Linked DNA regions of Homo sapiens. The protein of the gene in region 1 interacts with the protein of each later gene in a pairwise test. Each region holds a gene or a part of one and is shown on either strand. Other genes may lie near its edges.

Region 1 (7,816 bases):
TGGGATGGTGGGATGGGCTTCTCCCCATAGGATCAGCTCCTTCAGTTCAGGCACCACTTCTTTTCCATTTTCTCTCTCTCTCCCTCTCTCTCTCTCACACACACACACACACACACACACACACTCTCTCTCTCTCTCTCTTTGCATCAACCAATGGGCAAAGGGTGGTAATTCCAGAAGTTCACTAGAGATAATCTCATCTTTCCCTCTTCTTCTTTTTTAAAAATAAAATAAGGAACCAAAGATCCAAGGACTTTCTTGCAAGTGACTTTCTTGCAGTTTCATAGCTGGTTAGGAGCTGAGCAAATGGCAATGAATTAACAAACCCTTGTCCCAAGCACCCTTCTGTGACATCAAGAGTCCCCTCTCACTACCCACATTTCCATCTAGGCATGTTCATGGAGGCAGAGGGCAGTTAAGGGGTAGATTTTCTTTATTTGCATCAAGGCCATTTGTTAATCACTGCAGAAGAATTGGTTGCAAACAAAAAATGGAAGCTTTATACTTTTTCCAGTCTATGCCCCTGCCTTACCTAGCCCAGACACTACATCTGAGGAGTTGAGATTTACAAACATTTGGGAAGTTTTTGCCCTAGAGTTTTCTGTACATTTTAGTAGATAAAGGGGATATTCCAATAAGGAGAAGGTATGTGTTTCGGAAAGTACTTTTCTACTCCTAACAACAAACGCCTCAGAATTTGAATTTGAAGTCCCACTGCCCTGGGGGACAAAGGTCCTCTGAGTCAGAAGCCACTAACCAGATGATCCAGCAGCAGGACTGAGGGTACCAGGGCAAGCACCAGCCCATGCCATCACCCACACAGAGCCCCAGGTATGCTTGACCATTGAGGGCCAGGAGGTTAACTGTTTCCTGGACACTGGTGCGGTCTTCTCAGTCTTACTCTCCTGTCCTGGACAATTGTCCTCCAGATCTGTCACTATCTGAGGGGTCCTAGGACAGGCAGTCACTTGATACTTCTCCCAGCCACTAAGTTGTGACTGGGGAAATTTACTCTTTTCACATGCCTTTCTAATTACGCCCGAAAGCCCCACTCCTTTGTTAGGGAGAGACATTCTAGCAAAAGCAGGGGCCATTATACACTAGAATTAGAAGGAAAAAGGTTAAATATACAGACTCTAAGCATGCTTACCTAGTCCTCCAAGCCCACGCAGCAATATGGAGAGAAAGGGAATTCCTAACTTCCGAGGGAACACCTATCAAACATGAGGAAGCCATTAGGCCCCCCAAATTCTCTTTACCTCTGAATCTACGTCCTCTGATCCCTGCCTAAAGATAATTTTGTGGGGAAGAGGATTTGCTTGTGTCTCTCCAGGTGACACTCAGGTGTCTGTGTGGGTGCCCACCAACCATCTGAAGATCTATCACGAGCCACGGCATCTAGTGGACCCACATGTAGAGTACAGTGCGAATTGAAGGTTTGAAAAGCCTCGATTTGCTTTCTCTATGCCTTCTGTTAATCAGAAAAGGCCTGTTTCTCATTATCAGTGGCCTCCCGGCTACAGCCACAAAAGTTTTTGCTTCTGTTTCAGTAGATTTACTAACGTGGGGGTGAGGGTATGCTTGTGTTTTTGCAGGAGATGAACAAACCGTGTGGATACCCTCAAGATGTGTACGACCATGGAATGGGAGACTGGAGGTACCCATGGATCCCAACCTTGGACCGGGTTCCCCCAGTGTGAGCCATGAGCCAGTTGAATCTGAATGCGAAGAAGGAATGAGGACCGACCGGAGTCACGATGCTTAACGGGCCAATGCTTTCTGACTCAGCTCCTCTCTACCCTGAATATGAGAGACCCTAACAGTTAGACAGGAATATCGTCACCCCTATTCAGCATGAAGAAGTTACAGAAGATGGACCTTCATCCTTCTGCAACCCCTAGGATTAAGGGTCTTCTTGTAAAAGGGAAAGGGGAGATATGTGGGAAGCATTCAAACCAGAGCCATGCTAGTAATAATGATAGCTAGTAATAATGATATCTTCTCTTTTACAATAAAGAGAAGGGGGGCATGCTGGGAAAAAGCTGAGTGTTGGGGGGAAACTGAGGCAGGGCTTGCATAATGTCCTCTGGAATGTGTCTAGACTTGCTGGCTCCTTGCTTCTAGCCTTCCTAGGCTCCTAGGCACCTATTCCCATTATCTCAAGTAGCAGAACATGTTCCATATAAATGCTAAACTGTCACAGCTGTAAATCATGTGCTTAATGCAACATGACCTCCACATTCTCACCACCTGTTTCTTAGTTGGATTACCAATAAACACTGTGGGCTCCCAGAGCTCGGGGCCTTCACAGCCTCCGCAATAGCAATGGCCCCTGTTGTCCCACATTTCTCTCTCAAACTTTTTTCTCAATCTTTTGACTCTGCTGGACTTTGTCACTCCCACAACCTGGTGTTGGGTCTGATCACCCCAACAATTTTGTGCATGTCCTTGTGTTCAGGAGTCATTGGCTCTTGAAAAAACTATGTGGCCAGGAAGCAGGAAGAGCTAGGAAGTAAGGTTTTTTTGTTTGTTTTTTGAGACAGAGTCTCACTCTGTTGCCCAGGATGGAGTGCAAACGAGCGACCTCAGCTCACTGCAACCTCCACCTCCTGGGTTCAAGCGATTCTCCTGTCTCAGCTTCCCAAGTAGTTGGGACTACAGGCGCCCGCCACCATGCCCAACTAATTTTTGTATTTTTGGTAGAGACGGGGTTTCACCATATTGTCCAGGCTGGTCTCAAACTCCTGACCTTGTGACCCACCCGCCTTTGCCTCCCAAAGTGCTGGGATTACAGGAGTGAGCCACCGCGCTCGGCCTATACTTGAAAATCTTGAAAGCAGTTATGTCAGATATGTGAACCAGAGAAGCCCATCTTGAATAGCGGCTGGGTAAAATGAGGTTGAGACCCACTGAGCTGCATTCCCAGACAGTTAAGTCATTCTAAGACACAGGATAAGATAGAAGGTCAGCACAAGATACAGATCATAAAGACCTTGCTGATGAAACAGACTGCAGTAAAGAAACCGGCCAAATCCCACCAAAACCAAGGTAACAAGAGAGACCTCTGGTCGTTCTCATTGCTACACTCCCACTAGCGCCATGGCAGTTTACAAATGCCATGGCAATATCACGAAGTTAGCCTATATGGTCTAAAAAGGGGAGGCATGAATCCACCCCTTGTTTAGCATATCATCAAGAAATAACCATAAAAATGGGCAACCAGCAGCCCTGGTAATAGACAGCCCTGCTCTGCCTATGGAGTAGCTATTCTTTTGTCCTTCTACTTTTTTTTTTTTTTTTTGAGACGGAGTCTCGCTCTGTCGCCCAGGCTGGAGTGCAGGGGCGCGATCTCGGCTCACTGCAAGCTCCGCCTCCCGGGTTCAAGCAATTCTCTGCCTCAGACTACCGATGTTCCTCTACTTTTTAAATAAACTTGTTTTCACTTGCCCTGAATTCTTTTTGCGCAAGATCCAAGAACCCTCTTTTGGGGTATGGATCCGGACCCCTTTCCCGTAACACTTACGGACATACTCTCTTATTCAACAGAAACATAGTTTTATTCTATAGATTTTACAATCTATTTTCTGACCTTTTAAAGTTAAGGACATAAGGATAAGACTTCTCATATTAGTATGAACAGGCCACATAGAAATATCTTCTGCCTAAAGGAAAAGGATGCTGAGCATTGGACCGTTTCATCACAAGAAGGCGCGACTTGCTTTCCTAGGGTTCCTGTGGTATTTGTTTTTATCTAATTGAGTTTAGATAAAATCTCTACTGAGGCAGTAGGATGGACAATGAAACTTTTTGAGGATCCACCTTTTAACTGAAAGATTTTAGGGAGGAAATGGAGTGGGCAAAGTAATCAAAAGAACAGGCATTCTCATTACCATCTTACCAAGCCTAGAAGCAAACAGAAGAGCAAAACCTATCACTTAATGACTTCTGGAGACCATATTAGACAGGCAGCCCTGATTTTTAATCTCCTTTCTTAGCATGGTGGAAAATGAGAGAGAGAAAAATGCCACTTCCCCATTTCTTAGTGTTTGTTCATCCAGCACGAGCCGGAGAACAGTAAACGCTTGTTCAATGGTTTCACTGTTCACACAAAACTGGAAAAATGGGTTGCATTAGCTATTCCTTTTATAAATAAGATTTCACTCTTTCAAACTCCTAGCTGACCAGTGAACTGAGTAAAGAAATAGCTCTCACAAGGGCAAAGGAGTGAGGCAGCCTCTTGCTATTTCTCCTGAGACGGTCTGAAATACAGCTCCTCGCTTTAATCCTGAGGCAGGTGTTTGTGTCTCCGGATGAGGACACCCAGCTGGGAAGGCTAGCGACGCCCCCAGGGCCACCTCATGGGTGGCAGGGCGCTCTTCGGAGCACGGCCACCTGCCCGCAGGAGCCCTCCGCTCTCCGATTCCAGGCGAGGGGAGGCGCATTCGGGGCCTCGACTTCTGGGAACCCGGGGTGCCGCGGACCCGCCCAGCAAGGCCCCTCGCGGGGCCCGGAGGACGCCAAGTGCAGGGTTCAGTGGTCGTGCCCCAGTCGGGTCTACACTCAATGGCTGTGCGCCAGCTGTGGGCAGGGGGTCCACACCCGCGCTGTGTCCCCGCGCGTTACCACGGCGCACCTCGCGGACAGTGGGAAGGGATAGCCCCACCATCAGCGCCCACTCCGCGGACTTCACGGACCACTACCGGGTCCGAGAGAAAGGCTGGTGAGCATGCGCGCATTGCTACGGCGGCCGCGCTGACGCACAGGAAGCGGGCGGGACCGGACTTCCGGCTGGTCTGTGGGGTTTCGGGTTCGGGGTTTCCTGGTGGGCGTCAGGGGCAGGCAACAGAGTGGCGGCCGCTACGGCCCTGTAACAGGGCCATGGAGAAGCTGCGGCGAGTCCTGAGCGGCCAGGACGACGAGGAGCAGGGCCTGACTGCGCAGGTAGCGAACTTGCGCCCTCGTCCAGTCCCGGGGCTGCCCGCTGGCCCCGGCCGCACTGAGGACCGGCCGAGCGGGTGGGGTGGGTGCGAGGCCGGGGGTCTGGGACTCCTCTGCCCGGCTGGTTGATTTAGGAGGGCTCCGCCTGCTTCCTGGGTAGAATTTGAGAACTTTCCAGTTTTCCATGCGGTCTACTTAAACCCACTTTGAGGCCCCCCCCCGACTCTCCCATCTGGCCTTCTGACTTAGGAATCCGCTAACGTCTGCCCTCGCTTTCCCAAATAATCCATCGCTCCCACGTACTATTTGGTTTTCTGAGCCTGGTGCGGGGTCTGGCCTCGGGCTGTGCAGCGTAAGTAGCTATGCAGGGCATTTATCCTGCAAGCTGCAGTGAGCCGAGACCCTAAAGCTTGTTGCATCTGTTTGTCTTTGGAGGTAAAGGTGGTGTTATGTGTGTGTTTGCTGGGGGGTGGTCTTTTGGAAATAGGGAGACTGGAGGAAAAATAAACAGGACATTGGTAAGTGAAATAATATTGAATTAAAATTTTTCTGTTAAGGCAGTGAGCCCTGGTAAGAGATTTTTTTTTTTTTCTTAATAAAAGCCCTTGTGTCTGCGCCTTACCAGCGAGACTTGATAAGGGTTACTTCCTCCAGCAAGAAGGTTAAAAGTAGCAGTGGAGCAGGAACTGCGGTGTAAGTTTTTTTGTTATTGCATGCGATTATATTGCACGTTATTGTGTGCTGTCGCAGAAGTTGGACGTTTAAAATTGAATTGTATTTCATAAGGATCTTCTATTTGTCTCTCCTGACTTCCTTGTCATTATACTTACTCAGCACTTGGTGTGGGTAGAGTTCTGGGCTACAGTTTTGGGTTCAGAGAGTGTAAGACAAGTATCTGTTCTCATTGCACTCTGTAACTCTGTATATTACCACAGCCACATGTGGCCAATGAATTTTTTTTTTTTTTTTTTTTAGATGGAGTCTTGCTTTGTCGCTCAGGCCTGGAGTGCAGTGGCGTGATCTCGACTCGCTGCAACCTCTGCCTCCCGGGTTCAAGCAATTCTCCTGCCTCAGCCTCCTGAGTAGCTGGGATTACAGGCACCTGCCACCATGCCCTGCTAATTATTTTGTGTTTTTAGTAGAGATGGGGGTTTCACCATGTTGGTCAGGCTGGTCTCGAACTCCTGACCTCAAGTGATCCGCCCACCTTGACCTCCCAAAGTGCTTGGATGACAGGCTTGAGCCACTGCGCCTGGAGCAATTAAATTTAAATTAATTAAAATTAAATAAAATTTAACATTCAGTTCCTTAGTCACAGCAACCACATTTCACATGTTCAGTAGGCACATGTGGTTAAAGGCTACTGTATTAAACAGCGCAGATACAGAACATTTGCATTGCAGAAAGTTCTATTGGACAGTGCTACTCTAAACTTTGGAGATGCAAAGGTAATATCACTTATCTTGAGCCCACTGTCTAGAGGGGAGAAAGATATGTGGAGAAGTAATCAATCAAAGATTAGAGTGACTGGCTGTATAGACAAGTGCTGTGAGTTCAGAGGAGGTGATCGTTCATTAACAAATATTCAAGTTCCTGCATATGTTTGACATTGTTCAAGATGCAGGTGTTAATAACAGTGACCAGTGCAAATACCTCTTTCACATGGAACTTAAATTTTAATTGGAGGAAACAGTGAATAAACAAGTATATAATGTGTCAGACAGCCACAGAAAAAGTCAGAGCAGGTTGAGGAGGTTGGGGTTGCCATATTACTTAGATAAGGCCTCCCTGCCAGGGAGTCATGTGAGCACAGCTCAGAAGAGCTGCTGGGATGTCTGAGCATCCTGTGAATAAAAGCCTCCAAGGCAGATACAGAGTCCCAAGTGGTGTGTGGTCAGCATGTTCAGGGCCAGTAAGGAGGCCAGAGGGGCTCTAGCAGCGGGGCAGAGAAGAGGGACAATTGTAGAAGAAAAGGTGAAGCAGGAAGGGGGATTCTCAATTGTGAGGGTTCTCATAGGCCATAGAAAGGATTTTAGCTTTACTCTGAGTGTGATAGGAAGCCTTTGGGTTTAGAGCAGAGTGGTGGTGTGACCGACTTGGATTTTAAAGGATCACTCTGGCAGCTCTGTGGAGAACAAACTGTAGAGGCAATGTTAGAAGCCCAGAGACTGGGCTGGAGACAAGTACAGTTGTCCTGGCAAGAGATGACTGTGGCTCAAATCAGTGATAGAAGTGGTTTAAAGAGCAAAAAAGCCTGTTTAAAAAACAAAAAAGTGGTCAGATTCTGTAAATGGTCTGAGTGTACAGCCAGCAGGCCACACTGTTGACGGATTGGATGTGTGAGAGTGGGAGGAGGCAAGGATGCCTCATGGCATTCGACCTGAGCATCTGGAGAGGTGGAGTTGCCATTAAGTGACTGTGGGAGGAGCAGGTTCAGGGAGGAAAATCATTTCAGTGTGGACGTGAAGTCTGAGATCCAGGTAGCATCCAAGTGGAGATGTGAGGAAAGCAGTTGGACGTAACACTGTAGAGTTTGTGGGAGGAAATAGGAGAGAGATGAGATCGTCAAGATGAGGTCCAAGGTTTGACCTCTGGTTTTCTCTAGGTGTGTAGAAGTTTAGAGGATGAGCAGAAGCCGGCAAAGACAGCTGAGAGGCGTGGCGAGAGAAGGAGGAGGAGAACCAAGAGAGAAGGATGCCCCAGAAAGTGAGGGAAGAGAGTGCTTTAGGAAGGGGATGGGACCCAGTACTGTTGATGGGTCTCAGAAGTTAAGAGCAGATTACCCGTGGAGGTTATCAGTTGTCACTTCCACGAGAGCAGTCTTGGTGGCTGGATGGGGTCAGAGGCCTGATTGAAGTCAGGGGAGAATAGAAAGAAG
Region 2 (7,024 bases), on another chromosome or scaffold:
TGGATGGCGGCCGGGAAGAGGCGCTCCTCACTTCCTAGATGGGATGGCGGCCGGGCAGAGACGCTCCTCACTTTCCAGACTGGGCAGCCAGGCAGAGGGGCTCCTCACATCCCAGACGATGGGCAGCCAGGCAGAGACGCTCCTCACTTCCCAGACGGGGTGGCGGCCGGGCAGAGGCTGCAATCTCGGCACTTTGGGAGGCCAAGGCAGGCAGCTGGGAGGTGGAGGTTGTAGCGAGCCGAGATCACGCCACTGCACTCCAGCCTGGGCACTATTGAGCACTGAGCGAACGAGACTCCGTCTGCAATCCCGGCACCTCGGGAGGCTGAGGCTGGCGGATCACTCGCGGTTAGGAGCTGGTGACCAGCCCGGCCAACACAGCGAAACCCCGTCTCCACCAAAAAAACACAAAAACCAGTCAGGCATGGCGGTGCGTGCCTGCAATCGCAGGCACTCAGCAGGCTGAGGCAGGAGAATCAGGCAGGGAGGTTGCAGTGAGCCGAGATGGCAGCAGTATAGTCCAGCTTCTGCTCGGCATCAGAGGGAGACCGTGGAAAGAGAGGGAGAGGGAGACCGTGGGGAGAGGGAGAGAGGTGAGACGGGAGAGGGGAGAGGGGAGAGGGTCTCGAAACAATTACTTGTAAAAGCAATCTTTTAAATATTTTTAATGAAATTATTTAGCTGGCATTTTTCCCCTTAAAGTTATTGTATAATGGTATTATACAATAATTGAAATCAGTTGGCCATCATGAACTGATATACATGAGCATTAAAATGCCCATCAGTTTCACTTGCTTATAGATACATCCTAATCCTTCCAATTGGAATAAGAAAATATATTTCGTGATAATGGCAGTAATATATGTCTCTCTGAACTGAGTTTGTAAAACATTTTAAAATCCAAACTGTATTGTTGATCAGTGTATTAGGAAAATAATCATTCTGCTGCTATACTTAAATTAGTTAAGCATTTGTTGGAAAGTTGTGATTGTTTTAAGATATATGTAGATAAATTGGAATGAACATGAGAAAGAATAACATACAATGGTTACAATCTGGAAAATAGGTCTTATGAAAAAATGTTAAAGGAATTAGGGCTGTGTTAGCTCTCTGGAAAGATGACTAAATGATAAATTATGACTATTGCTTAAACAGTTAACAAGAAGAGTATAACCATCTACTTTTTCATCTATCTAGAGCAAATTAAAAAGTTATACTTAAATTCAGCTTAAAAACAACAAATATTGAAATCGGCCTAGCACCAAAGATGTTGCAGAATCAGTAATAGTGGAAATCATGAATAAATCAAAGCTCACAAGAGTGAAGTGTACTTGGTACCAGGGTTTTGTTTTAATGGGGGTATAAATCTTTGCACATATGTATTCATCTTTCTAGATTTTTGTTGTTGAGATGAAATAGATTTAATTCCCCAAATTTAGCCAGTTAGTAAGATCCTGTATTATTGAGAGATCCTGTATTATTATTTATTTTTTAGTTGGTATTGGTGAATGATTTTGGTAACAGTTGTTTAAAGGGTTAAAGTATTAAAGATACAGAAAAGTGATAATTACCTTTGAAGGTAAATCAAAAAAGCTGAAGTCCCAGTTACAGCCACACTACATCATTTGCTATTTTACTTTGAAAATTTACATATCATTTGTTATATATATTATACACATCCCATGTAGTGCTATGGTTTATTTCTTATGCAAGATTAAGAAACTGTAATAACTAGAACAATAGAGCTCCTATTCCTGGGGTCAAGACATGGAAGTACAGTGGTCTTCTTTTATTTTACACTTTATTTTAGAATCCCTTATGCCTTGGACGGTAGAGATACAGTCTTTGTTTAAAATGGTGATTGAACTGGATAACCTATTAAAATGCCTTCCAACTCAGCAAGTAACTTGTAGATTAGTGATTTCTATATTGAATTTAATAATGGAGATATTATGGTGTTCAGAACATCTGAGTCTCTAATAAGAAACTATTTTAACTTCTCTGGGCTTCATTAATCTTACCGTTTAATGTGACAGTTTAGTTGATTTCCATCATCCCTTCTGGTTTTAAATTTTATAATTTAACAGATTTAAAGAGAAAAATATCTCTCATTTTGAAAGTTAACAACAATCTATTTAGTTTAGGTCTATTGCATGTTTGAATTTTAATGTGAGATCCAGTTCAAGTTAAGGTATATTTTATACTGTTAGAACTCGTGACAGTTTCTATGTCAGAATTTAGTACATCTGGAATATGACCAGTTATTACTAATAGTAAAGAAAGTAGACATGTCTTTCTTATTAGGAAATTTAATTATGTACTTAATGCATGTATTTTTTCCAGAGAACTGGGGAAGAGTGTAATTGAAATAAAAGTACATTATAGACATTAAAATATTCTCAGCTAAACATGGAAGGACTTTAATATTTTTTCAGTTTTAGAAACCTATTACTCCCTTTTTTTGTTTAATGCTAGACATTAGCAACAATGTTGGGTAGTCAGTGTTTCTTTCTTTCTTTCTTTTTTTTTTTAATTGAGACAGAGTCTGGCTTTGTCACTCAGGTTGGAGTGCAGTGGTGCGATCTTGGCTGACTGCGGCCTCCTCCTCCTGGGCTCAAGCAGTCCGTCTACCTCAACCTCTGAGTAGCTGGGACTACAGGCTTGTGCCACCATGCCCAGCAAGATGGTGTTTTGCCATGTTGCCCAGGCTGGTCTTGAACTCCTGAGCTCAAGCAATCCATCTGCCTCTGCCTCCCAAAGTGCTGGGATTATAAGCATGAGCCGCCGCTCTCAGCCAGTAGTTAATGTTTCTTACTTTGTAGCTAATTAAGGCTCAGAGATGTTTAGTAATTTGCCAGGGTGTTCCTGATATCATGTGGTAGATAGAGCCAGAATTTTAAACTCAGTGTTAGAATTTAAAACTTAGTTGTGTTTCATTCAAAAATTGTGTTGTTTCCTCTGGTTCTCAAACTTGGTTGTGTTTGAGAATCATCTTGAGTGGCTTTTGCAAAAGAATAGATGCCTGTTTCACTGATAATCAGTAGATCTTTTTGAGTATCGCAGGTATGTTTTAAAAGCTCCAAAAGTGATTCTTATAATGTCAAAAAATATTCTACATCAGCACTTCTCAAATTTCAAAGTACATACAAATCACCTGGGGAAATCTTATGAAAATGTAGGTTTGGGTTCAGTAGGTCTGGGCAGGGTCTGAGATTTTGCATTTCTAACAAGCGTCCAGGTGAATTGAAGAAGGTCCTCTATGTCCACATTATGAATAGCAATGAGACACACTATGTGACATTTGATTTGTGATTTGAAATTTTTGGCTACAATTCCTGTGAAGGCTGTAGTTCATTCACATTTCTTATAAGAGATATGAGAGCATGTTTTAATATCCCTTACATGCCTTTGAATTTTTACTTGAAGAGCTTTTCCTTTATATATGAGAGTAGCAAGTTATGAAATATTTACTGAAGCTTTAAATCATCCAGCTATGGGACTGTATTCACATTCTGTTAACTGATTTTGGAAATAGTAGAGTCCAGTTAAAATCCTGGTTAGATGTCATCTACCAGATTTCATTATATAGTTACATATTCTGTTTAGTTTTGATAGTTTGATGAAAAGTTTATATAAAAACTGAGCCTGGTAGCATACATTTATTATTAGTCCTTCCCTGAAAGAAAACAAATATATTAATTCCAACTTTTAATCCTAGTGTTTGAATATTTTAAAGGAAATATCAGTAACCCTATATTCAAAATGTACAGTATGTGGAGGAGGAAAAGGATTTTCACAGTTAAAATGTCTACCTTTTCAGGTTCCCCAGCACCGCCACTGCCATCTGTTATGTCTCCTAGCAGGGTTGCAGCTAGTCGACTGGCTCAGCAAGGAAGTGATTTAATTGTTCCTGCAGGTATTCACTGCACTGATTGGATAAAGCACTTATTGCTACTGCTGAAGCTACACTAATTTACTCAGTTTCATAATCACTTGCTTTATATTCTTAGGTGTGTGTGATTCTGACTTTTTTGGTGGCTGCCTTATTAACAATAAAGGAAATAATTTTTCTAACTGTATCCTATCTTTGTGGCTTTTCAGAATAATTCGGCTGTATCTCACACCTGAAACTTAATCCATTTTAAAATTAAAACATTATAAAATTTGATTTGCTTTAAATCATTCTTTCTTTGCTCTGGAAATTGTAGGTTTACTGTTTGATCCTAAACTCTCATCTTTGCAGCTCTGCCTTCTATTTTCAGTTAAAGGAAAAACAACCTTCAACAATTAGGTTGGTTGTTTTTAAGAATGGATTAAATGAAAAAGGTCTTGTCTTCTTACTTTTAGCTTTAACTTACAAATAGTTTGCAGATTGCAACACAATACTGTTAATTTACCAGTTATACCCAATGAAAAATACTTGGGAAAATCAGTATCTTTACATTCAATTTGCTCTGCACTTTACCGTTACTGGACTATAAAAATGGGAGAAAAAATGAACTCCACGTTTCTTCTTATATGAAATGTTAACATTTATATTTTGTTTTGTGAGAATTTTGTAAATTCTTAAATGTGTTCTATTTTATATACCATTCTTGTTCTCGGACTGGTAAAGCTATGGGAAAGATTGGTCTGATTATAGGAATAAGTGAGAGAAGAAATTTTTGGGGATTTTTACTGGGGGCTGATCCTAATTTTTTCTTTTCCTTATTTCATTATTCTTTTTAAATTATTAGAAAGTTTCCATCCAAAAACTGAAATGAAAAATATTTTGACTATGAAAAGTATTTTACTATTAAGAACTATATAGTTGTAGAGTTGCTTTCATATCAAAAATTCTTAATTGTTGGAAGAGTACATTGTCAGGAATTTACACTGCTTCTTTATTCATTATGGCTCTTTTTGGTTTTCTTACCTTTTTTTTGTGGTCTCTTGAGAAAAAAGAGGTACAATATAGATCTTGTTTCAACCCAGCCTTTCATACTAGTGATAGCATATCTTTAATGACTATTTGAATTGAACTACTGTATGAAATTTGAATTATTTTTTTCAAATTCTCCAAAATTATAGCAACATTCTATTGTTGTTGTAGTCTGCACATTACAGTGAAAGATCACTGTGGGGAATACGTGGCCTTTTAGATTTTTATCGACCAAGATACTTCTTTTTTAGTGTCATTAGTGTATAAAATTAGTTGTGGAAATTTTATTTTTCTTGAAGTAAGCGGCAGCTTATATAGAAAATAAGGCTGATTGCAGCAAGAGTTTTTTTGTTTGTTTGTTTGTTTAAAGAAGACAGATAAGTCACATGGCATTTGTGTTTAATGGACAGAAGTGTTGTTTAAGTAATTAGGAAACTATCCTCAGCGATTCCAGGAAGTTCTAGTTCTTTACTTTGTGGGAACCTTTTTTTCTTTTTTTAGATGCATAAGAATTTCAATTTGAACAATATCAGGGTTTTGTTTTCTTTCCCTGCTTGTCTTCATCTGGATTGTGTTTTTATCTTTTGTTATCTTGCAGGTGGCCAGAGAACACAGACAAAAAGTGGACCAGTTATTCTAGCAGATGAAATTAAAAATCCTGCAATGGAAAAGTTAGAACTTGTTAGAAAATGGAGTCTAAACACCTATAAGGTTTGTAATTATTTAATGTTTCCACCCTAAATGGCTCTAAAAAAGTTCATTTATATGTTTATTCAAGTCATTATGTTGCAATTAAATGCACATAGAGAAGAGAAAATGCCATCTAAACATGGTAGAAATACAGTTTGAAAATGAAGTATTTGTTTTATCATTGATCTTTGCATGTAATTTAAGAATTTAGTACAAAAGAGTAAAAAAGCTATTAAAATGCTTATTAACCGATAATGTACATAATTGAAGACATGTACTGCTTTGGAATTTATTTAGCTGTAGAGCTACTATAGATATATTTGCTCCTTCCCCTCCTTTTGATACTTTATAGGAGCTGAAGGTGAAGAGAGGTATATTAGTTCTCCAAAGTTTGAAATTCTCTGATTTTACTATAATAACTAAGCATTAACTATATGGGCAACACCAGATTGCAAATTAGTTGTGTTTCTAAAGTTTGTTAACATTCTTAGTTGCATTGCTTCAGAGTAATTGGTGATTATTTTTCTTATGCCCTCCATAAAACAAATAAGCAAATTATTTAACCCATATTGTATTTGATGTATTACAAACAGCTCAACCCCCAAATCCACTTAGTACCTTTTGAATTTTAACAGGGACAAGACTGTAGAATTCGTGGAATAGTTAGGATGAAAGCCCTAGCAGCTCAGGTTAGAACATTAGCCACAATTCTCCCTATATTCGTGAACTGATTGTGGGTCTAGTGATTGGTAAATTAGGAATTGTCTGTATTTTTATACAGAACAGGCCTTTCTTACATCTTCTCAACAGTAAAACAGAAGTGAATTTATTCTTTCAGTTAATACCTTAAAAATATGATGTAGAAGTCTTCTACAAAAGTATAGGTTTTCTTAAGATGGTAAAACCTCCCTGAAACATGTTACATGAATCTGTCCAAAAATTATTTAGCTCATGAAAGTGTAGAATCTGAGAAATCCCAGTGGTAGTCTTCAAAAAGTGATGCTTGCTTAAACTAAACTCTTCTTCTAAAATATTCACGGATTTCTATTGCATCTTCTTGCTGATTCCACATAGCCAGTCAGTCGTTAAGTCCTATGCATTCTGCCTTCTTAATATTCTTTCACCTTTTCCCCGTTCTCCTCCATCCCAGCCTTCACAGCCATAGTTCATATTTATTACTCTCTCACATTACTGTAACAGCTTCTTAACCAATTCGCTAAGACTACATGTTCGACCCTGCCTAACGTGGGTTCGCTCCTGCTTAAAATCCTTCAGTCAATCCCCACTGTTTTTAGAGTGGCATGAATCTGACCTCTATCTACCTTTCCCACTCTGTCTCTGCCTCTTTTCTATCTATGGATCAAGTGATTCATACCAAATTTCCCAGAAACTTCCTAAACAATCTGTGCTTTC

Evidence for each region.
Region 2: the proteins of SFT2D1 (region 1) and ARFIP1 interact in binary tests that used the Homo sapiens proteins (3 or more experiments, as listed by UniProt).

Annotation. Positions count from the first base shown.
Region 1 is NC_000006.12:166,339,544-166,347,359, reverse strand, and holds the start of SFT2D1 (vesicle transport protein SFT2A), read left to right. Parts: upstream 1-4,814; 5' UTR 4,815-4,878; coding exon 4,879-4,941; intron 4,942-7,816. UniProt on the Homo sapiens protein: May be involved in fusion of retrograde transport vesicles derived from an endocytic compartment with the Golgi complex.
Region 2 is NC_000004.12:152,866,933-152,873,956, forward strand, and holds part of ARFIP1 (arfaptin-1), read left to right. Parts: intron 1-3,820; coding exon 3,821-3,916; intron 3,917-5,519; coding exon 5,520-5,632; intron 5,633-7,024. UniProt on the Homo sapiens protein: Plays a role in controlling biogenesis of secretory granules at the trans-Golgi network. Mechanistically, binds ARF-GTP at the neck of a growing secretory granule precursor and forms a protective scaffold.